Homo sapiens: one gene and its partners. The protein of the gene in region 3 purifies or fractionates together with the protein of the main gene of each other region. This does not show direct contact. Each region holds a gene or a part of one and is shown on either strand. Other genes may lie near its edges.

The links.
Region 1: the proteins of CTSB (region 3) and GMPS fractionate together in Homo sapiens (co-fractionation; one large-scale study listed by BioGRID). This does not show direct contact.
Region 2: the proteins of CTSB (region 3) and AIF1L purify together in Homo sapiens (affinity purification with mass spectrometry, with the first as the bait; one large-scale study listed by BioGRID). This does not show direct contact.
Region 4: the proteins of CTSB (region 3) and PRDX4 purify together in Homo sapiens (affinity purification with mass spectrometry, with the first as the bait; one large-scale study listed by BioGRID). This does not show direct contact.

The regions. Positions count from the first base shown.
Region 1 is NC_000003.12:155,939,665-155,944,692, reverse strand, and holds the end of GMPS (GMP synthase [glutamine-hydrolyzing]), read right to left. Parts: 3' UTR 673-5,028; downstream 1-672. UniProt on the Homo sapiens protein: Catalyzes the conversion of xanthine monophosphate (XMP) to GMP in the presence of glutamine and ATP through an adenyl-XMP intermediate.
Region 2 is NC_000009.12:131,109,546-131,114,573, reverse strand, and holds part of AIF1L (allograft inflammatory factor 1-like), read right to left. Parts: intron 2,978-5,028; coding exon 2,911-2,977; intron 1-2,910. UniProt on the Homo sapiens protein: Actin-binding protein that promotes actin bundling. May neither bind calcium nor depend on calcium for function.
Region 3 is NC_000008.11:11,854,550-11,859,577, forward strand, and holds part of CTSB (cathepsin B isoform 1 preproprotein), read right to left. Parts: intron 3,392-5,028; exon of another isoform or gene 3,309-3,391; intron 1-3,308. UniProt on the Homo sapiens protein: Thiol protease which is believed to participate in intracellular degradation and turnover of proteins. Cleaves matrix extracellular phosphoglycoprotein MEPE. Involved in the solubilization of cross-linked TG/thyroglobulin in the thyroid follicle lumen.
Region 4 is NC_000023.11:23,677,008-23,682,035, reverse strand, and holds part of PRDX4 (peroxiredoxin-4 precursor), read right to left. Parts: intron 2,872-5,028; coding exon 2,749-2,871; intron 1-2,748. UniProt on the Homo sapiens protein: Thiol-specific peroxidase that catalyzes the reduction of hydrogen peroxide and organic hydroperoxides to water and alcohols, respectively.

The DNA of each region.
Region 1 (5,028 bases), on a different chromosome or scaffold from region 3:
TTTCATATTACCTAAAAGAACAGTAATATATACATATGGAATGGCATTCTGAAATATAAAAAAAGGAATTAATGGTTAGAATTTGACACACTACTTGAAAAGTGAGGTTAACATAAGATTCCTAGCTGCTTTTCTTATAATCTATATAAATTCATTAGAATAACTCACTAATAATCTACCAAAAAAACAAAAAGCAAAAACAAAAACAGCTGTGTGGTGCTTAATATAGCTTTTGATAAAAGGAGTATTAAGAGACAGAATGTCAGTTTTGAAATATAGGAGTTCGAGATTAGAAACCTAATACTTTTGTTATGAATTATGCTAAAACGGTAAAAAAATTTTCAAAATATAGTTGTCTCAAATACACTCTTCTCAGATAACAGAAGGCCAGGCAAGGGCACTGACTTGAAGGGAAACAAACCACAGTAATATGACTGCCTGAAAGTAACTATGGAATTCAGTTTCTCAAAGTGATTACTTCTTCTAATCTTCATATTGATGACTCACTAGTACATTTACTTTGATGGGTTTAATCAACTCTGATAACATAGTTCCAAACACTTAAAAGGACCTGATTTATGTATTAAATAAAGGTTAATTTGTTCTTGAGAAATTGACAAAAGATTTGGTCAAACGTAAATGAATATGCAATAAGTCACATAAGTCTGTGTGTATATACATATATGACTTTAATTTTATAAGTGCATGTGTATACGCACACCTTTAGCTCATTTAAATAAAAAGCTATCCAATGTTTTATGTCCATTATGTCCCCCGTTAACATTGAGCAAAATGTTAACCCCTACTATATATGCAAGGGAAATAAATTAAGTTGTTATATAGAAACCCTTGACACTATATGCAATTTCTTATGTCCCATATTCTGATAATATCTGTCCTCTTGGCTCTTACTTCTTGGAATTTCTCATAAACACGGAAGCTTCATGACAAATTGTGTAAATCATCATTTCCTCCTTTATGAAGTATATTGAAGACAAAAGGGATTAAAGTCATTTCACATTTAGCAAAGCTATTTTATGGCAACATTGTTACAACACAAAATAGACATTGCAGTTTACAATTAACAATTACACAGTGATTTCATAACAATACTACTTACTCCAATTAACAAAATATTTCTTTATAAAAAATATGTTCAAAAGGAGGTTTACATTCACTTCTTCGTTTAATATCAAGGTTGTTAACAATGGTCTTAGGAGATGCAAAGACGAAAAACTACTTACCTTAAAAATCTGTATTCTTGAAGATATATACTCCACTTGAATAAGATACTGCTCAAGGTTTAGGCTTCCTGGAGAACTCAGAGGATTTTGTAGTTGTACTTAATATACTCAATAGCCAAATTTCCTAAACTTTCATAATTTTGCTAACCAAGGGCCCTTAACAAAGTTAAAAGACACCACAGGGTTCAAAAGTGAACAAATATGTTGTTTTTGTTTTAAGACGGAGTCTCATTCTTGTCACCTAGGCTGGAGTGCAGTGGCGCAATCTCTGCTCACTGCAACCTCCATCTCCCGGGTTTAAGTGATTCTCACACCTCAGCCTTCCGAGTAGCTGGGATTACAGGCGCGCGCCACCAAGCCCAGCTAATTTTTACATTTTTAGTAGAAATGGGGTTTCACCATGTTGGCCACGCTGGTCTCAAACTCCTGACCTCAAGAGATCCGCCCGCCTCGGCCTCCCAAAGTGCTGGGATTACAGGCATGCGCCACTGTGCCTGGTCACAAATATGTTAATGAGCCAATTAAGATGGTGCTGCTCAAATGATTCTAATTCAGGAAACTTAGGTTGCAGCTAGGTAATCTCTAGTTCTCTAAAGAATAATACCCAAATGACAGGATTTATGTGTTGATGCAATAATAGCTCAGTCTGTTTCATGACCTAGCTAGAGTCAGAATTGGAGCGGTGGCTATAGCACAGGGGTGGCTTTCTCCTCTCTGAAGGAAAAGTAAAGAAGTAAGAAGAAAGAGGTTGAAAGAACAGCCTACACAGTTGTTGCCCAGATCTCAAAATTAGCAACAAGTATGTCAGCTGTCCTAATTATTACCAAACAGGTCCTGGGAGTGTCTGACACACAACATAATATAGGTGCAATCAGTTCCAGAATCTGGTTCCTGGATCTGAACTAATTTAGCTATAAGACCTTCAGCAAGACCATCTCTATGGCCTGCATCTCTCTCCTATAGGTTTGACAAAGATTCACCTATGAGTTTGATGAAGACAGGCTAGGTATGGCCCTCAATAAGAATTTATTCTGACTGGGAGATTTAAAACTGTAAATGCTTGCCGGGCGTGGTGGCTCACGCCTGTAATCCCAGCACTCTGAGAGGCCGAGGCGGGCGGATCATGAGGTCGGGAGATCGAGACCATCCTGTATAACACAGTGAAACCCTGTCTCTACTAAAAAGTACAAAAAAATTAGCCGGGCGTAGTGGCGGGCGCCTGTAGTCCCAGCTACTCGGGAGACTGAGGCAGGAGAATGGCGTGAACCCACGAAGCGGAGCTTGCAGTGAGCCGAGATTGTGCCACTGCACTTGGGGACAGAGCGAGACTCTGTCTTAAAAAAAAAACAAAACAAAACTGTAAATGCTTGAGTTCTACCTCCTCCAGATTCTAATTTTATTTAATTGGACATCTGGTTATTGTATTTTTTAACTCCTCAGGTTATGTAATAATACGCATCCAGTGTTGAGGAACACTGACAAAAAGGTTAGAGTTCAGTGAGACACTGAGGCCTCTTCAGTACATAAAAATAGGGTTGGAAGTTAGCATCTTGACACTCTTTGGGGGATTCTATATCTCTTCACTTGCCATTAAGTGAAACGTTCAGAAATTTAAGAGTCAACAATGCCACCATTACTGCTGTCAAAGTCCTTCAGTGATTAAAAAGATACCAGAAAGATACCCTGATCCCTTGATCATCTGGTGGTGTTAAACTACTTCAGTAAGAACAAAAGATGTGCTTTCCAAGGGTGGAGACATCCAACTTGTATTCAGTTCCCCATTACATTCTGGATTTGGGTCAATGAAAGAAGCATCCATTGGGGTGATAGCTAAGGCGTGTCCTCGCCACATATCAATGAGATTTCTGGAGGGGAGTAGTGTGGGAAAGTGGTTATAACATTGCGCAAGCAGATGTCAGAGAATTTCTGAAAGACAGGGCTATCTCTAGAAACTCACTGTAAGTAAGGAGACAATTAACACTTTTGAAGCCCATTTATCCCTGATGGTCAATTACACACTAAGAACTTCCTTTTTTTTTTTTTTTTGAGACTGAGTCTCGCTCTTTCACCAGGCCGGAGTGCAGTGGCACTATCTCAGCTCACTGCAAGCTCCGCCTCCTGGGTTCAGGCCATTCTCCTGCCTCAGCCTCCCGAGTAGCTGGGACTACAGGCACCCGCCACCGCGCCCAGCTAATTTGTTGTATTTTTAGTAGAGATGGGGTTTCACCGTGTTAGCCAAGATGGTCTCGATCTCCTGATCTCGTGATCCACCCACCTCGGCCTCCCAAAGTGCTGGGATTACAGGCATGAGCCACCGCGCCCGGCCAAGAACTTCCTTTTAAGATTTGCCCTGAAGGGCCCTAGAGCATTTCCTCTTCCATGCAGAGAATCAGAAAGCTTGGATTCTAGCTCTAGCTCCCAACAATTAGCTGTATGTAATTGATGATGGGTGACTTCATTAGTGTCAAAGCCAAAGCATATTCTCTGTCAGCTTTTCAAAAAAACACGCAGTAAAGAGAGATTCCTACCAGGAAAACTTTGATGGGTGTTTTTCAAGTGTCATCTCACAGCAGAAGATGCCCCAAGTGGTCAAACCTTGCCAACAGCTTCAAAAAAAGGTAACTAGGATTTAACTTTACGGTGCATTTTGATGTTTCCCTTTGTGTCATATCTGATGATAAAAGAACCTTAAAAAAAAAAAAAAAAAACACTATCCAGCTTCTCCATTCTGTCTCCTGCTTTACTTTCTCTTGTTTACAAAATACAAATTTATAGCTGGATTTGATGCTGAAAATTTAATACAGTTACCTCATGTCACAGATAAAGAACAGAAATGACTTGACCAAGTTCACATTGTTGTTTAACGGCAGGAAAAGCACTAAAGATGGATAGTCCTGCCTTCCTAATTTGAATGCTCTTATTCTCTACAGGTTAGGGTCAAGTTATTCAGTAAAACAGGCTATCAGGAGGTTAAGCCCAAACAGTGAGGAAACAAATTTTATGATGCTTGTTTGACTAAATGCATGCAGTTTACCTCAAGATTAAGGGATTTAAAAAAGGTTAGAAAACAGTGTAACCCTATCTCCTGGATATATCTACAGACTTGTATTTAGGAATTATGCCAGGCTGTTATTTCTAACAGAGCTGATGATCATAGATGTGGCCTTTAAGGCAGGACTGGGTATTTGGTTCTTAAAAATGATTCTGTGCCTGCCAATCTTAGGAATAAATAATGCTTTCAATGATCTACATTCTCTGTCTACCTAAAAAGTACAAAGAAAAAGAATATATTTAATCAAAGAGAGATGTGTCCCAGGTAGATGGTAAGCAACGGGAATAAAGTCATGATATGCCCAGAATAACCAATGATGAATGTTATTAGCCAGGTAGCCACCATTCTAGTCTTAGTAAAATAAGCATCCCATAAATGTTTATATAATTTTAGGTGTCAGAATACACATCAGGACAATCTGGACTAAGGAAACCTGAAATTTAATTCTGAAATTAATTAAGTAACCATGCCTAAGGTGAGCTTGTTTTCTTAACTGTAAAATGGAAGTGCAACCTTTAACTTTCCTCAGTGGCTCAGATGAAATACTGTGAAGGTACAGAGTAATGCTATATGGCACAAAGCAAAAAGTGCTGTGCAAAAGAAGACAGTGTGCTAAATATTAGGAAATTTCTGAGTTCCAGAAAATTTGGATTTTTAAGAAACTATGTCATGTCAAGATGTGCTTTGGAGTAACAATTTTCCCAATATTATATTAAGTATATACTAAGTATA
Region 2 (5,028 bases), on a different chromosome or scaffold from region 3:
GAAATCACAGAGCAAAAACTAGCATTAGTTTGGAAGCAGCGTCTCCCTGTGGGGACCCAGTGGCTCCCTTGTGGGCAAATGACCGTGTCCTCAGGAGTCTGAACCACCTCCCGCACCCTACCAAGGGTCTTGACCTGAGTCCCCCATCCGCTGAGCCATGGCCTCTGGGGAAAGAGCTCATCCTGCCTGGACTACTCTCCTAGAGGTGCCACGAGGGAAAGATGGCTGGGGGCCACTCTGACCCTCTTACCAGGAGGGCAGCTGCTTTCTCCCGGGTCCCCAGCAGCACAGACCAGCTGCATCTGAGTTAGTAGCAAAGTGACTAGCTCTGATTCCCTGCCCCAGGATTCTGGCTCATGGGTGTGGAAGGACAGGGTGGGGGCAGGCATGGGTGTGCTTTTTAGCGTCCCAGGCAGTTCTGATGGGCAACCGGGTGTGGGAACCACTGATTCAGGGGACCTGTGATTCTGAAACCAGGAAAAAGGCCTGCCCTAGCCCACAAAGTGGACATACAGTTTCCCGGGGTACACAGACCATCACCCCAAACCTCACACACAGACTGAGTTATACTTCCCTGATCAAGGAGTCCAGGAAAACTTCTAGCAGTGAGGGAGGATGTCGGAGCAGTGGGCTTGGTATGTTCAGATGGGAGCAGTGTGTCAAACGGACCGTGGGGCCTCTGCAGGTCACCCCCTGCCCGGGCAGAGTGGGGCCCTCATGGTCCATCCTGCCCCACAAGCAGCCAGCAGAGAAAGCCGAGGCCCTCCTGCAGGCTGTGCTGCCCCCGCCCACTCCCTGCCTGCTCCAGCTCGCTGCCCCTCTGCCTGGAATGTTCTCCCAAGTATTCTCAGCACCCTTCCTCATGGCTTCAGGGCTCCCCACCCTTTCTTTTTCTTCTTTTTTTTAGAAGGAGTCTTGCTCCATCTCACTTTGTCACACAAGCTGAAGTGTAGTGGCGTGATCTCAGGGGGGATACACAGCTCACCTAGGGCAGAGTTGGGACTTGAACCCATGTTAGTCTGGCTCCAAAGCCCCCGTTCTTAACCATTATGCTTTTTTTTTTTTTTTTTTTTTTTGAGATGGAGTCTCATTCTGTCACCAAGGCTTGAGTGCAGTGGCTTGATCTCAGCTCACTGCAACCTCTGCCTCCTGGGTTCAAGCAATCCTCCTGTCTCAGCCTCCCGAGTAGCTGGCATTACAGGCACCCACCACCACATACAGCTAATTTTTGTATTTTTAATAGAGATGGGGTTTCGCCATGTTGGCCGGGCTGGTCTTGGACTCCCGACCTCAGGTGATCCACCCACCTCGGCCTCCCAAAGTGCTGGGATTACAGGTGTGAGCCACCGTGCCTGGCCTCCCCACCCTTTCAAAATTGCACCCCCTCCCCACAGCTGAGCACTCCTGTCCTCCCTCCCTCATTTCTCACTGAAGCACCTACCACAGTCTGCTAACCTTGTATTTCCCGGCTCTCTGTTTAGTCTCCCACCACCTCTCACACCGCCCCCCGAGCGAGAACACAGGCTCCCGGGTGGGAGCTGCCTTTTACGTTCACCATGGTGCCCCTGGCCTGGAATGGTCCTGGCACATGTACAGGTGCGCATTTGGAGAACAAATGAGTGAATGATGTAACTTCCTGTCTGGCCCAACATTCCAGTGAAGACAAGTAGAAAGGGTGCCAGAGCCCTGAGACCCGTGCCTCCTCCCAGAGCCACCCCTGGGAGTGGCCACGCTGGTATGCAGACAGAAGGGAATAGACTGCTCTCTTTTTCACAGCTCTCCTACAGGTGGCTGGGATGGGGTGGGGTCAGGAGTGTCTTTTACTATTTCCCTTCTCTCTTCTTCATGTAAAAAGCATCATAGCGTAACAGTTGAGAGCAGGGGCTTTGGAGCCAGACCGACATGAGTTCAAGTCCCAACTCTGCCCTAGGCGAGCTATGTGTCCCCATGCCAACAACCCCGCCCTCCAAGCCCGAGTTTCTCCATCTGCACATTAACAAGTGCGCCATCTTCCTCCAGGCCGATTGGGGTGATGTGGGGAGCTCGCCACGCCGCACGAGAAGTGCTTCACACAGGCCGACGTCCAACAAATGCCAGCTGTTATTAATATGATTAGCCCTAGATGTCCAGCCTAAGGACAACTGGAAGTGATTTGAGGAACACTTGGCCAAGTTCTTTGCCCTGGAGCCGGGAGGATGCTCACACTGCAAACACTTTGGAGGGGAATGCAACCTCCAGGATATTTTCCATGACAGCCCAGGGCTCCTGCGCCTAAGTGCCTCCCCTGGCAGGGAAGGTGGGTCTGCGCTGCCCCCTATGTGCCCGGCTCCTCTCCTTTCGAGGTGCTGGCTGGGAACCAAGCGCCAGGGCCCCAAACAGAGGGACCTTTATGCTGCCCCTCTCCCCGCGCCGGCTCCCAGGCCCTGCTTTCTTTTCATCCCGTGCTGCCGGGTTTCAATGGGCAGAAACTCTGCCCCCCTGCCCCACTGCGGTGACACAAACGTCCATTCTCCGCAGGGGCTCCTGAGACGCTCTGCTGGGGAGGGGGAGAGGCAAGGCTTGCTCACAAAGAGCTGATTGTGTGCGGGGCCCGGGAGTGACGGGGCCTGGGCAGCGGCGGACGGGAACCAGCCTGAGCCCCGTGGGCAGTGAGGGGAGAGAGAGGGGCAGGGCCAGGACCGGGCTGCAGGCGAGGGGTGACGGGGCCCGCAGGGGCAGGGAGGCAGGTGGAGGGGCCTCTCCCCACCTCTCAGGGGGTCCCTGTCTCCAAGCCTTCTCCAGGAAGAAGGGCATTCTGGACAAAACAGGGCCACAGCCTAGTCCTGTGGGGCTGAGGGGTCCTGTGTGCAAGGATGAGGGGCCAGCCCACCTCCCCCAGGAATAAATGCAGGGCAGCCCGCCCCAGCTTACCTTTGAAGGCTGTGAGCTTTTCTGGAAGGTTCTCTTCATCACTGTACTTCTGGTCACACAGAAACTCCTACAGAGGTGAGAGGACAGTGCTGAGCAAGGGACTGGGGACAGAAGTCACCCACACATGGGCCCACTGTCCGGGGGCCTTCCCTCCTATCGGGTAACCAGGTGCGACCAGACCCAGTTTGTCCCTTGTTCACCCCGGCTTCCTGTCGCCCCTTGGAGGCAGATCTGCACTGGCCACCCTGTGGGTAGGAAGTTTGCCCAGCAGCTTGGGGAGGCCCCAGAGGGTTCACTACGGGTGACTAAGCCCTCCAGCCAGCAGCTACATTACCAATGCTGGGACCCGTGCCCCTCCCCCAAGACACCCCAGCTTCAGATCCGAGAAGCTGTGAGCTCCAAAGACAAGCCCCTGGTTCCATCATTAACTTCTTAGGAATGTGATCCTGAGCTCATTCATTCCTCCGTGCACTTTTTTTTTTTTTTTTTTAAGAAGTCTTGCTCTTGTCCCCCAGGCTGGTGTGCAATGGCGCGATCTCAGCTCACTGCAACCTCCACCTCCTGGGTTCAAGCGATTCTCCTGCCTCAGCCTCCCCAGTAGCTGGGATTACAGGCGCCTGCCACCATGCCCAGCTAATTTTTGTATTTTTAGTAGAGACGGGGTTTCACCATGTTGGCCAGGCTGGTCTCGAACTCCTGACCTCAGTTGATCCCCCCGCTCCCACCCCTCCGCCTCAGACTCCCAAAGTGCTGGGATTACAGGTGTGAGCCACCGCGCCCGGCCCTCCCCACACTTCTATTGCCTTATCTACCAAATGAGAATCATGATCTGCTTCTTGAGTTTGTATAGAAATCCAGTGAGGCCAGGTGCGGCGGTTCACGCCTGTAATCCCAGCATTTTGGGAGGCCAAGGTGGGCCGATCACCTGAGGTCAGGGGCTCGAGACCAGCCTGGCCAACATAGTGAAACCCCGTCTCTATAAAAATACAAAAATTAGTTGGGCATAGAGGTGGGCACCTGTGATCCCAGCTACTTGGGAGGCTGAGGCAGGAGAATAGCTTAAACCTGGGAGGTGGAGGTTGCAGTGAGCTGAGATCATGCCACTGTACTCCAGCCTGGGAGACAGAGAGAGACTCCATCTTAAAAAAAAAAAAAAAAGAAAAGAAAAAAGAAATCCAGTGAGAGTGTGAATTCGTCGTCTCTGCTCTAACGGGAAAATGACTGTACACTTACCCTCTCACCTGTTTCCTCACCTGTAAAATGGGGGTTTTAATCTCTGGCCTGCCTTCCCTTCAGATGCTTGGAGAGACTCAAATGAGTCCTTTCAGGACCAGATGGGCAGGGTGGGGAGGATTGGACACTAACAATGGCCTCCAGGGTGAAGCCCTTACCTATGTGATCTCTTCACATCTCCTAGGAGTCCCAAGAGGGAGCTATTGTTATTATTATTTTGAAACAGGGTCTTGCTCTGTCATCCAGGCTGGAATGCAGTGATGCAATCTCAGCTCACTGTAACCTCCGCCTCCCGATCTCAAGTGATCCTCCCACCTCAGCCTCCTGAGTAGCTGGGACTACAGATGGGCGCCACACCACGGCTGGCTTATTTTTGTATTTTTTGTAGAGACAGGGTTTCACTCTGTTGCCCAGGCTGGTCCCAAACTCCTGGACTCAAGTGATCTGCCCGCCTCGGCCTCCCAAAGTGCTGGGATTACAGGTGTGAGCCACGGCGCCCGGCCAGTAGCTACTATTATTATACCCATTTTGCAGGTGAGGAAACTGAGGCTCATAAGCCAGAGCTTCAACTCGGCTCCATCTCATTTGGAGCCTGCATCCTTAGCCCCTACATTCTTTAAAGGTGGGCAGATTGCAGGTGTTCATCTGGCCTGGTCTCTGACCTTACAGCAAAAAGCGACCAATGAGGGAACACCTGCCAGATACAGTGCCAGGTAACTTATGTATCTTGCGGCTAATCTTTCAGCAGCCCTGGAACCTGTATTCAGATGGGGAAGCACAGGGCCTGTTCCCCTCCTACCACTCGAACTCTGCAAATAACCCCTCTTCTTTGGAGCTTCCATTCTTTTTTTGTTTTTGTTTTTGTTTTTTTGAGACGGAGTCTCG
Region 3 (5,028 bases):
ACAGTGGCACAATCTTGGCTCACTGCAGCCTCCACCTCCCAGGTTCTTAGCCTCCCAAGTAGCTGGGATTACAGGTGTGCGCCACCACACGCACCTAATTTCTGTATTTTTAGTAGAGATGGGGTTTTACCATGTTAGCCAGGCTGGTCTCGAACTCCTGACCTCAGGTGATCCACTGGCCTCAGCCTCCCAAAGTGCTGGGATTACAGGTGTGAGCCACCGCACCCAGCCAGTGGAAAAGAGCTCTGACGGGAGCCCAGCCCTCTGGGGCAGCACATGTGTCGTAAAATGCTGGGTGATGCTCATCAGCACAGCACCCAACGGACCACTCAGAAGCACATCCTCCGTGGAGGAATCAGCGTTACCTAGGTGAGGCCAGAGAGGAAACAGGACAGTGCTTGTACAAGTGGCTGCCTGAAGTCTGAATCTTCACACTGGACTCCTCACACACAAAAAGTACCACATGCAACACAGAATTGTTTTGTTTTTTTGAGACGGAGTCTTACTCTGTCCCCCAGGCTGGAGTGCAATGGCATGATCTCGGCTCACTGCAACCTCTGCCTCCTGGGTTCAAGCTATTCTCCTACCTCAGCTTCCCGAGCAGCGGGATTACAGGCATGTGCCATCATGCCCAGCTAATTTTCATATTTTTAGTAAAGACAGGGTTTCACCATTTTGGCCAGGCTGGTCTCGAACGCCTGACCTCGTGATCCACCTGACTCAGCCTCCCAAAGTGCTGCGATGACAGGCGTGAGGCACCGCACCAGGCCCACAGATCTTAATTTAAAAAGTTTTATGAAAAAAATCAATGCCCTTTGAAAAACAGGCTGGGTGCGGTGGCTGATGCCTATAATCCCAGTACTTTGGGAGGCCAAGGCAAGTGGATCACTTGAGGCCAGGTGTTCAACACCAGCCTGGACAACATTGTGAGACCCCATCAATATAGAAAATAAAGTTTTTTAAAAAGGTAATGCTGGAGGAAAGCTTAGGATTGACAGGAAACACAGCCTTCAAGGGAAAATGCTTGCATTACACTGAAAAGTCTCTTTAAAACAAAAACTGACGAAACAAAGCAGTACTCACATATACTTTAGGCTTCGTTTCCACAAAAGGCTCTTCAAAGTCAGAAAAATGGAACCAGCATAATAGAAAAACTACAAATGGCCAACACAGATAAAAATAAGTTCAACCGGCATGGTGGCTCAAGCTTGTAATCTCAGCACTTTGGGAGGCTGAGGCAGGTGGATCGCCTGAGGTCAGGAGTTTGAGACCAGCCTGGCCAACATGGTGAAACCCCGTCTCCACTAAAAATACAAAAATTACCCAGGTGTGGTGGCAGGTGCCTGTAATCGCAGCTACTTGGGAGGCTGAGACAGGAGAATTGCTTCAACTCACTTGAACCCAGGAGGTGGAGATTGCAGTGAGCCAAGATTTCACCACTGCATTCCTGCCTGGGTGACAGTGAGACTCTGCCTCAAAAATAAAATAAAATAAAGTAAAATAAGTTCAACCTCAGGGAGGTGCAGATAAAATCAAGGAGGTATTCAGCATGTATCAGATTGGCAAGGGCTGGACAGTTTGGCACTTCTTGCAGGGCTTAGGAAGTGGGGAAACGGAAGGCATGATAATGAGTGCCTGGGGTGGGTGGGCACAACCACCGAGACATCAACCAGCAACGCCCACCAGTTTCTAAATCTGCATGTCCTGGAAATGAATCAAGTATCCAATAACAGAGTAACTGTTAAATTACGGTAAGTGGTTAAATAGAATATGAAGCAACCATTAAAAAAGCAATTAGTTGGTGGGGCACGGTGGCGCATGCCTGTAGCCGAGGCGGTTGGATCACCTGAGGTCAGGAGTTAGAGACCAGCCTGACTAAGGTGGTGAAACCCTGTATCTACTAAATACAAAAAATTAGCCAGGCGTGGTGGCGCATGCCTGTAATCCCAGCTACTTGGGAGGCTGAGGCAGTAGAATCACTTGAACCCAGGAGGCAGAGGCTGCACTCCAGCCTGGACGACAGATTGAGACTTCATCTAAAAATAATAATAATAAAATAAAAGTAAAAAACCAACTAGTTGAAGTGAATTCTATTGTATTAACAGAGTAAAAATGCCCCAAGTCCCAATGTTAAGTGGGGAAAAAGCAAGCTGTGGGTGACTGAGGACCATAAGCATCTGACCCTCTCAGCAATCTACACATGTAGGAACACTCCTGCCACTACATGCAAAATGCCAAGGAAGATGCACGGCAGTCGGTCACTACGGTGGGGAGACTTTTTTTCACAACATACCCTTACTTTTAAGAAAAAAAAAAAAGTGAGTATGTTCCTATTATTTCAGTTTTGTTTCTTCTAGGAAAAATAGTTGGCAGTATTACTAAAGGCCCTGAGCCACCAAACTGATAAAAGGACATTTGTTTTAATGATTCCTCAGAGCATTTCCAATTTGGTCTTCCTTCCCACCAATGAGGCTTCCTCCCTAGTGACTTTGAGATGGGAGTCTCGCTCTGTGGCACATGCTGGAGTACAGTGGCGCAATCTTGGCTCACTGAAACCTCTACCTCCCAGGTTCAAGTGATTCTTGTGCCTCAGCCTCCTGAGTAGCTGGGATTACAGGCCTGTGCTACCACGTTTGGCTAATTTTTGTAGTATAGTCCGTGTTTCGTTATGTTGGCCAGGCTGGTCTTGAACTCCTGGCTTCAAGGGATCTAACTGCCTCAGCTTCCCAAAGTGCTAGGATTACAGGCATGAGCCACTGGACCTGGCCCCTAGTGACTTTCTTAATAATCTTCCCCTTTTCCGTGACTCGTGGGTAGGCAGCGTCTCACGTGGCCATGCATGTCAGTGACCCACACAGCCTCCACACTGTGAGGTTAGCATGTCTCGTGGGCAGACAGCAGTGTCCTTGGATGTACCCGGGGGCTTTGTGCTGTAGAGATGTTATTTTAAATAATAAGCCAAGTCGAGGATGGGAGCGTTTCCATGGCAACTTGAATTTTAAAACCAAGATTTCTTTGGTTACTGTGGTGGCTGAGAACACAGGCAGCTGCCATGTCCAGTGGCTCTCAACTCCTGGAGGACAACCTGCCGTGGCCATTCCCTGGAGTCCCACAGGGCCCCCTCGCCACTTCACTAGCAGGCGACTTCCCTGCACCCGCCCTCCTTTTCATGGTTCCCAGGCCCTCCCACACCTCCCTGTGCTCCCTACTCATTCCCAGGCTCCCCGGGGCCACCGCTGCCAGCCCCAGGGCCCAGCCCATTCCACTAGTCCCAGGCTGAGCGCTGGGAAGTTCTTTCAGCCCCGCACCTTGGCCCAGGGCTGTGGTGTTCCTGGCTTCTCTGCTCCTCCCCTATGGTATCCAGGTTGGGGCTCAAGGGGCCGCCAGCGTGCTGCAACCGGACGATAAAATGAGCCCTGCACTTGGAGTCAGGAGACCTGCATTTGGATCTGGCTCTGCCACTGACTAAATGGCACCCTTGGGGTCTGACCTTCCCCAAGCCTCAGTTTCACCACCTATAAAATGGAGCTAGTAACCATCGTGTCTCAGGTGGCAGTCAAGAATGAAATGAGGAGGACCAAAGCGCCGGCACATGCCTGGCATGCAGTGATAAGGTAGGAAGGGCACTCGCTCCAGCGGGCTCTGTTCCCTCCCTCTCTCCTCTAACACTTCTAGCTCTCAGTTCACACTAAACCTATTCCAATAGGTCCCCAACGCCAGGAAGAGTCTAAATGAAAACAAGTTTGTTTTTTTTGTTTGTTTTAAGACAGGATCTCACTCTGTTGCCCAGGCTGGAGTGCAGTGGCACGATCATGGCTCACTGCAAACTCTGCCTCCTGGGCTCAAGAGATCTGCTCCCCTCAGCCTCCTAAGGAGCTGGGACTACAGGCATACACCACTACGCCCAGCTTTGTATTTTTTGTAGAGATGGGGTTTTGCTATGTTGCCCAGGCTGGTCTCAAACTCCTGGACTCAAGTGATCTGCCCGCCTTGGCCTCCCAAAGTGTCGGGATTATAGGTGTGAGCCACCATGCCCAGTAAAACAAGCTCTTAACTTCAATTAACCCCAGCATTTAACATCCAAAAATGCTTCCACTCTTGAGGGTCCCGAGACTGCTGAGAACTCAAAAAGTGTCAAGCCAAACACAGAGGTCCTGACAGCAGTGGCAATCTCACTCCATTGTGCAACAGGCGCCTTTCTCTCCACAACAACGCAAATCTCAATCACTCTGGACAAATGCAGATGGTGAAAGTGACAAGCTGAGCTGTTAACAGCTTTCCAGGGTCTTTGCATGGGACAGCAACCCATTTTCACTTCCCTTTATATAGGCACCCACTTCCCTTTTATTTCTTAATTCTGTGCTTTCTGCTCTGCTTCTTACAAGAGATGATGAACACAAAGTCCTTATTTCACGAGGGAAGGATGTGAACTCTTGTGTGCCACAAGACCCCTTTCCAGGATGCGGGCTGGTGGAAGAACAGCTGCGAGCAGATGTCATCTCTAGACCTTGGTCTGCTGTGCTGCTTAGGCAGACCTGAGTTCCAGTGCACCCCTCTGCCCCTTTTCCAAGCTAATCTTTGGGTTAAAAAAAACAGAAAAGGGTGCTCCTCATATCCTCTCTCTCCAAACCTGCAGAGCACTTATGAGAAAGCACGCTCCACCCCGGCTCTGTAGAACGTTGTTATGTGCCAAAAAGAGTGTGCGGCCAGGCGACTCTATCAACCAGAGCACCTTCCTCCCCCGGCAAACGGCACCCTAGACTACCTTGAAGCCGTTTCCAGGACAAATAGGGACCTTGCGATCCTGGAAGGAGGTGGAATGAAAGTCAAAGGAGAGGAGGTGCGGCTAAGTCACAGGAGGTGTTAAGTCCTGACACCCTTAAAGAATCAGTTTTGGGCTGCCACCAAGCTCAATAAAGAAGGCTTTCTGGCCAGGCACAGTGGCTCATGCCTGTAATCCCAGCGCTTTGGGAGGTCAAGGCAGGCGGATCACCTGAGGTCAGGAGTTCGAGACCAGCCTGTCTCTAC
Region 4 (5,028 bases), on a different chromosome or scaffold from region 3:
AGGATCTCACTCTGTTGCCCAGGCTGAAGTGCAGTGGCATGATCTCGGCTCACTGCAGCCTCAACCTCTTGGGCTCAAGTGATCCTCTCGCCACAGCCTACTGAGTAGCTGGGACTACAGGTGTGTGCCACCACGCCCAGCTAATTTTTGTATTTTTTGTACAAACAGGGTTTCGCCATGTTGCCCAGGCTAGTCTCAAACTGCTGGACTTGAGCAATCTACCTGCCTCGGCCTCCCAAAGTGCTGGGATTACAGGCGTGAGCCACCATGCCCGGCCTTAACAAAAAAATTTTAAAAAGAAACTACTGGCTCAGGTCAAATAATATAGCTAACGTTAGATAATTTTACTTGGTTAATGTTCAAATGATTCCACATTTTAAAACTGCCTCAGTCGTTTTTGGGGCATATTTATTCTTGGAAATTAACTTAGTAACAGATTTTATGAAAGCAGAAAACATTAAATACTTAGCAAGTACAAAAGAGGGGAAACTACTGGTAGCAATACATGATACAATACAATGAACCTTGAGAACATTATGCTGCGTGAAAGAGGCTAGTCATAAAAGCACATATTGTAGGATTCCATTTATATGAAATGTCCAGAATAGGCAACTATAGAGACATAAAGTAGATTTGTGGTTGCCTAAAGCCAGGGGAAGTGGGTTAGGGGAAACATGGAGTGACTGCTAATGGGTATGGGGTTTTTTGGAGCATGAAAACATTCTAAAATTGTGGTGATGGTTGCACAACTCTGTGAATACACAAAAACCACTGAAATGTATTCTTTATTTATTTATTTTTTTTTGAGACGGAGTCTCGCTGTCGCCCAGGCTGAAGTGCAGTGGCGCGATCTCGGCTCACTGCAGACTCCGCCCCCCAGGGTTCACGCCATTCTCCTGCCTCAGCTTCCCGAGTAGCTGGGACTACAGGCACCCGCCACCACGCCCGGCTAATTTTTTCTATTTTTTTTAGTAGAGATGGGGTTTCACCGTGTTAGCCAGGATGGTCTCGATCTCCTGACCTCGTGATCCGCCTGCCTTGGCCTCCCAAAGTGCTGGGATTACAGGCGTGAGCCACTGCGCCCGGCTATGTATTCTTTATTTTTAATTTTAATTATTTTTTTAGAGACAGGGTCTCACTCTTGTTACCCAGGCGAGAGTGCAGTGGTGTGATCATAGATCATTGCAACCTTGAACTTCCAGGCTCTAGCGATCCTCTTATCTCAGCCTCTTGAGTAGGCTGGGACTACAGGAATGTGCCACCACAATGGCCTAATTTAACAAAAAAAAATTATTTTTTTTTTTTTGTAGAAGACAAGGGTCTTGTTATGTTGCCCAGACTAGTCTCAAACTCCTGGGCTCAAGGGATCCTCCCACCTAGGTCTCCCAAAGAGCTGGGATTACAGGCATGAACTACCATGCCCAGCTGAATTGTATTCTTTAAATGGGTATTGTATTATATGTGAACTATATTCCAATAAAGTTGTTATAAAAAAACACAGGATTATAAAATACTGACACTTTCACATAAAACATTCAAGAAAAACTATTGGCACTACAAAGCAAATCAATACAACCAAATTACAACTGTTCCACACTAAAATTGCCCCCTTTTCAAAGAATTCTATTAATGTTTGTTAGCTCAAGTAACCCAGTGAGAGCGTCTGGGTAAAATATTTCCTTAATTTTTCCTACTCCAAAGACACAGGTTTGCTAAGTAGTATGACACTTGTATTTAGAAAAAAACATTACTGGAGTCAGGTTGCAAAAAAGGAAAAAGAAATGGACAAGGAGTTGGGGGACCTGGATTTAAGTCTGGGCTCTGCAATTAAATTATTATATAACTTTGGCTAAGATCACGGAACTCTATGAATCTGTCTCTTTTATCTGTAAGATGACAGGGTGGGTGAAAGACCTCTAAATAATCTTCCAGCTCTAAAAGTCTATGATGCTAACATAGTTTAATCAGGGTAATATAAACTAACGGTTTAAGTTTAGTAGTTTAAAGACTAATAGAACAAAGTAACATTTTTCTTTCTTTCTTTTTTTCTTTTTGAGACGGAGTCTTGCTCTGTCGCCTGGGCTGGAGTGCGGTGGCGTGATCTCGCCTCACCGCAACCTCCGCCTCCTGGGTTCGAGCGATTCTCCTGCCTCAGCCTCCCGAGTAGCTGGGACTACAAGCGTATGCCACTATGCCCAGCTAATTTTTGTATTTTTTAGTAAAGATGGGGTTTCACCATGTTGGTTGGCCAGGATAGTCTCGATATCTTGACATCATGATCTGCCCCCCTCGGCCTCCCAAAGTGCTGGGATTATAGGCGTGAGCCACCATGCCCAGCCAATTATTTCTTTTTTTTTTTTTTCACTCTGTCGCCCAGGCTGGAGTGCAGTGGCATGATCTGGGCTCACTGAAACCTCCGCCTCCCAGGTTCAAGCAATTCTCCCACCTCAGCCTCCCGAGTAGCTGGGACTACAGGCATACGCCACCATGCCTGGGTAATTTTTATATTTTTTGGTAGAGACAGGGTTTCACCATGTTGGCCAGGCTGGTCTCAAACTCCTGACCTCAAGTAATCTGCCCACCGTGGCCTCCCAAAGTGCCAGGATTACAGGCTTGAGCTACCGTGCCTGGCCTCAAAATTATATTTCTTGATCAAAATTTGTTCTTCTATTTCATAAATAACATCTATTTCAAGGAGGATTATAAACACGCTTGGATTTGTCATAATATAAAACCACTGAAAGGTACCTAAGAGTGTGGCCTGAGTCCTCTAGGTATACACCATAGTCCTTTGAGATCTGATGGGTCAAATCTGAAAGAAGTGGAATCCTTATTGGCCCAAGTCCTCCTTGTCTTCGAGGGGTATTAATCCTGTAACAAACAGAACGCTTACCTCTCAGAGCTAAGTAAACGGCATATATTAAAACAGCACTCTTTCTCTATACATGCACACGCACACACATGAAATACACACATTCTTTCACTAACAAAAACAGGCTAATATACTTTCTATTTTCTTGCTTTTCCCATTTAATATATTCATATCCTTTAAACATTAAAAATATATATACACAACACATTTTTATTTTATGTTTTTGAGACAGGGTCTTGCTCTGTCTCCCAGGCTGCAGGGCAGTGACGTGATCATAGCTCAGCGTAGCCTAAAACTTCTAGGCTCAAGCGATCCTCTTGCCTCAGCCCCCTGAGAAGCTGGGACTACAGGTGTGCACCATCCCACTGGGCTAATGTTTTAAACACTTTTTTGTAGAGATGGGGTGTGGCTTTGTTACCCAGGCTGGTCTCGAACTCCTGGCTTCAAGCAATCCTCCTGCTTCACCCTCCCAAAGTGCTGGGATTATAGCCGTGAGCCATTGTGCTCAGCCTACAACACATTTTTGTTTTTTCTGAGACGGAGTCTTGCTCTGTCGCCCAGGCTGGAGTGCAGCAGCGTGATCTCGGTTCACTGCAACCTCTGCCTCCCAGGTTCAAGCGATTCTCCTGCCTCAGCTTCCCAAGTAGCTGGGATTACAGGCATGTGCCACCACACCTGGCTGATTTTTGCATTTTTAGTAGAGTCAGGGATTTACCATGTTGGCCAGGCTGGTCTCGAACTCCTGACCTCAGGTGATCCACCCGGCTTGGCCTCCCAAAGTACTGGGATTACAGGCGTGAGCCACCGCGCCTGGCCTATAACACATTTTTAATGTATGGATACACAGATACTCCTTGACTTAAGATGGGGTTGTTTCTTTCTTTCTTTTTTTTTTTTGAGATGGAGTCTTGCTCTGTCACCCAGGCTGGAGTGCAATGGCACGATCTTGGCTTACTGCAACCTCTGCCTCCCAGGTTCAAGTGATTCTGCTGCCTCAACCTTGTAAGTAGCTGGGATTACAGGCACCCGCCACCACGCCCAGCTATTTTTCGTATTTTTAATAGAGATGGGGTTTCGCCACGTTGGCCAGGCTGGTCTCAAACACTTGACCTCAGGTGATCCGCCCACCTTGGCCTCCCAAAGTGCTGGGATTACAGGCCACTGTGCCCGGCTGGGGCTGTGTCTTGATAAACACATCATAAATTGAAAATATCATTAGCTAAAAATGTATTTACTATCCCATAAACCCACTGTAAAGTTGAAAAATTATACGTCAAACCATCGTAAGTCAGGAACATCTTTACTGTATTTTACTTAATTCCATGATGAAGATTTAAACCATTTACCTTTTTTTTTTGCTTTATAAACACTGCTGAAAACATCCTTGTATTCTTACTTTTATACACTTGTCTAATTGATTTCTGAAAGTGAAACTGATAGATCAAAAGATACGTAGTATCAAAAGCATAACCTTAGTAGTGTGATCATAAGATAAAGCCTTGAACAGACAGGCAGGATACAAATGGATGACATTTTAATATTCTGAGAGACAAATGCAAAGTCCACTTGAAGCAGTGAAGGAAGTGAGTTATAATATCAGATGCCTCAGTCTTCACTACAGGTTGAGTATCCCTTATCGGAAGTGCTTGGGACCAGAAGTGTTTTGGATTTAGGATTTTTTCCGATTTTGGTATATCTGCATACTTACTGGTTGAACATCCCTAATCTGAACTCTGAAATGCTTCACTAAGCATTTCCTTTGAGCATCATGTCAGCACTCAAATTTTGAATTTTGGAACACTGTGGATTTCAGGTTAGGGACGCTCAATCTGTATTCTGTAACTTGAAACCAGGAGACATGGGCTGATGCTCTAACAGGAGGGTACTGACACAGCAGATAGAAAACAAAACGACATTGCTCTAGATATCTGGAGCCCCAGTTCTGACACCCAAGTAGAAATTTCTGGTTGATGTGAACCCTATCAGGCTGAGAATGTATCCCCAAATTTCCTTGGGAAAGCAATCCCAAATTATTTGGGATGCCATAACTTTTTCCTTAGTGGATATGCATTTTAATCCTCGGAAGATTTATAATTACTACAGAAGTGATGAAGCACAGCCCGGGCAACATGGCAAGACTCCATCTCTACAAAAAT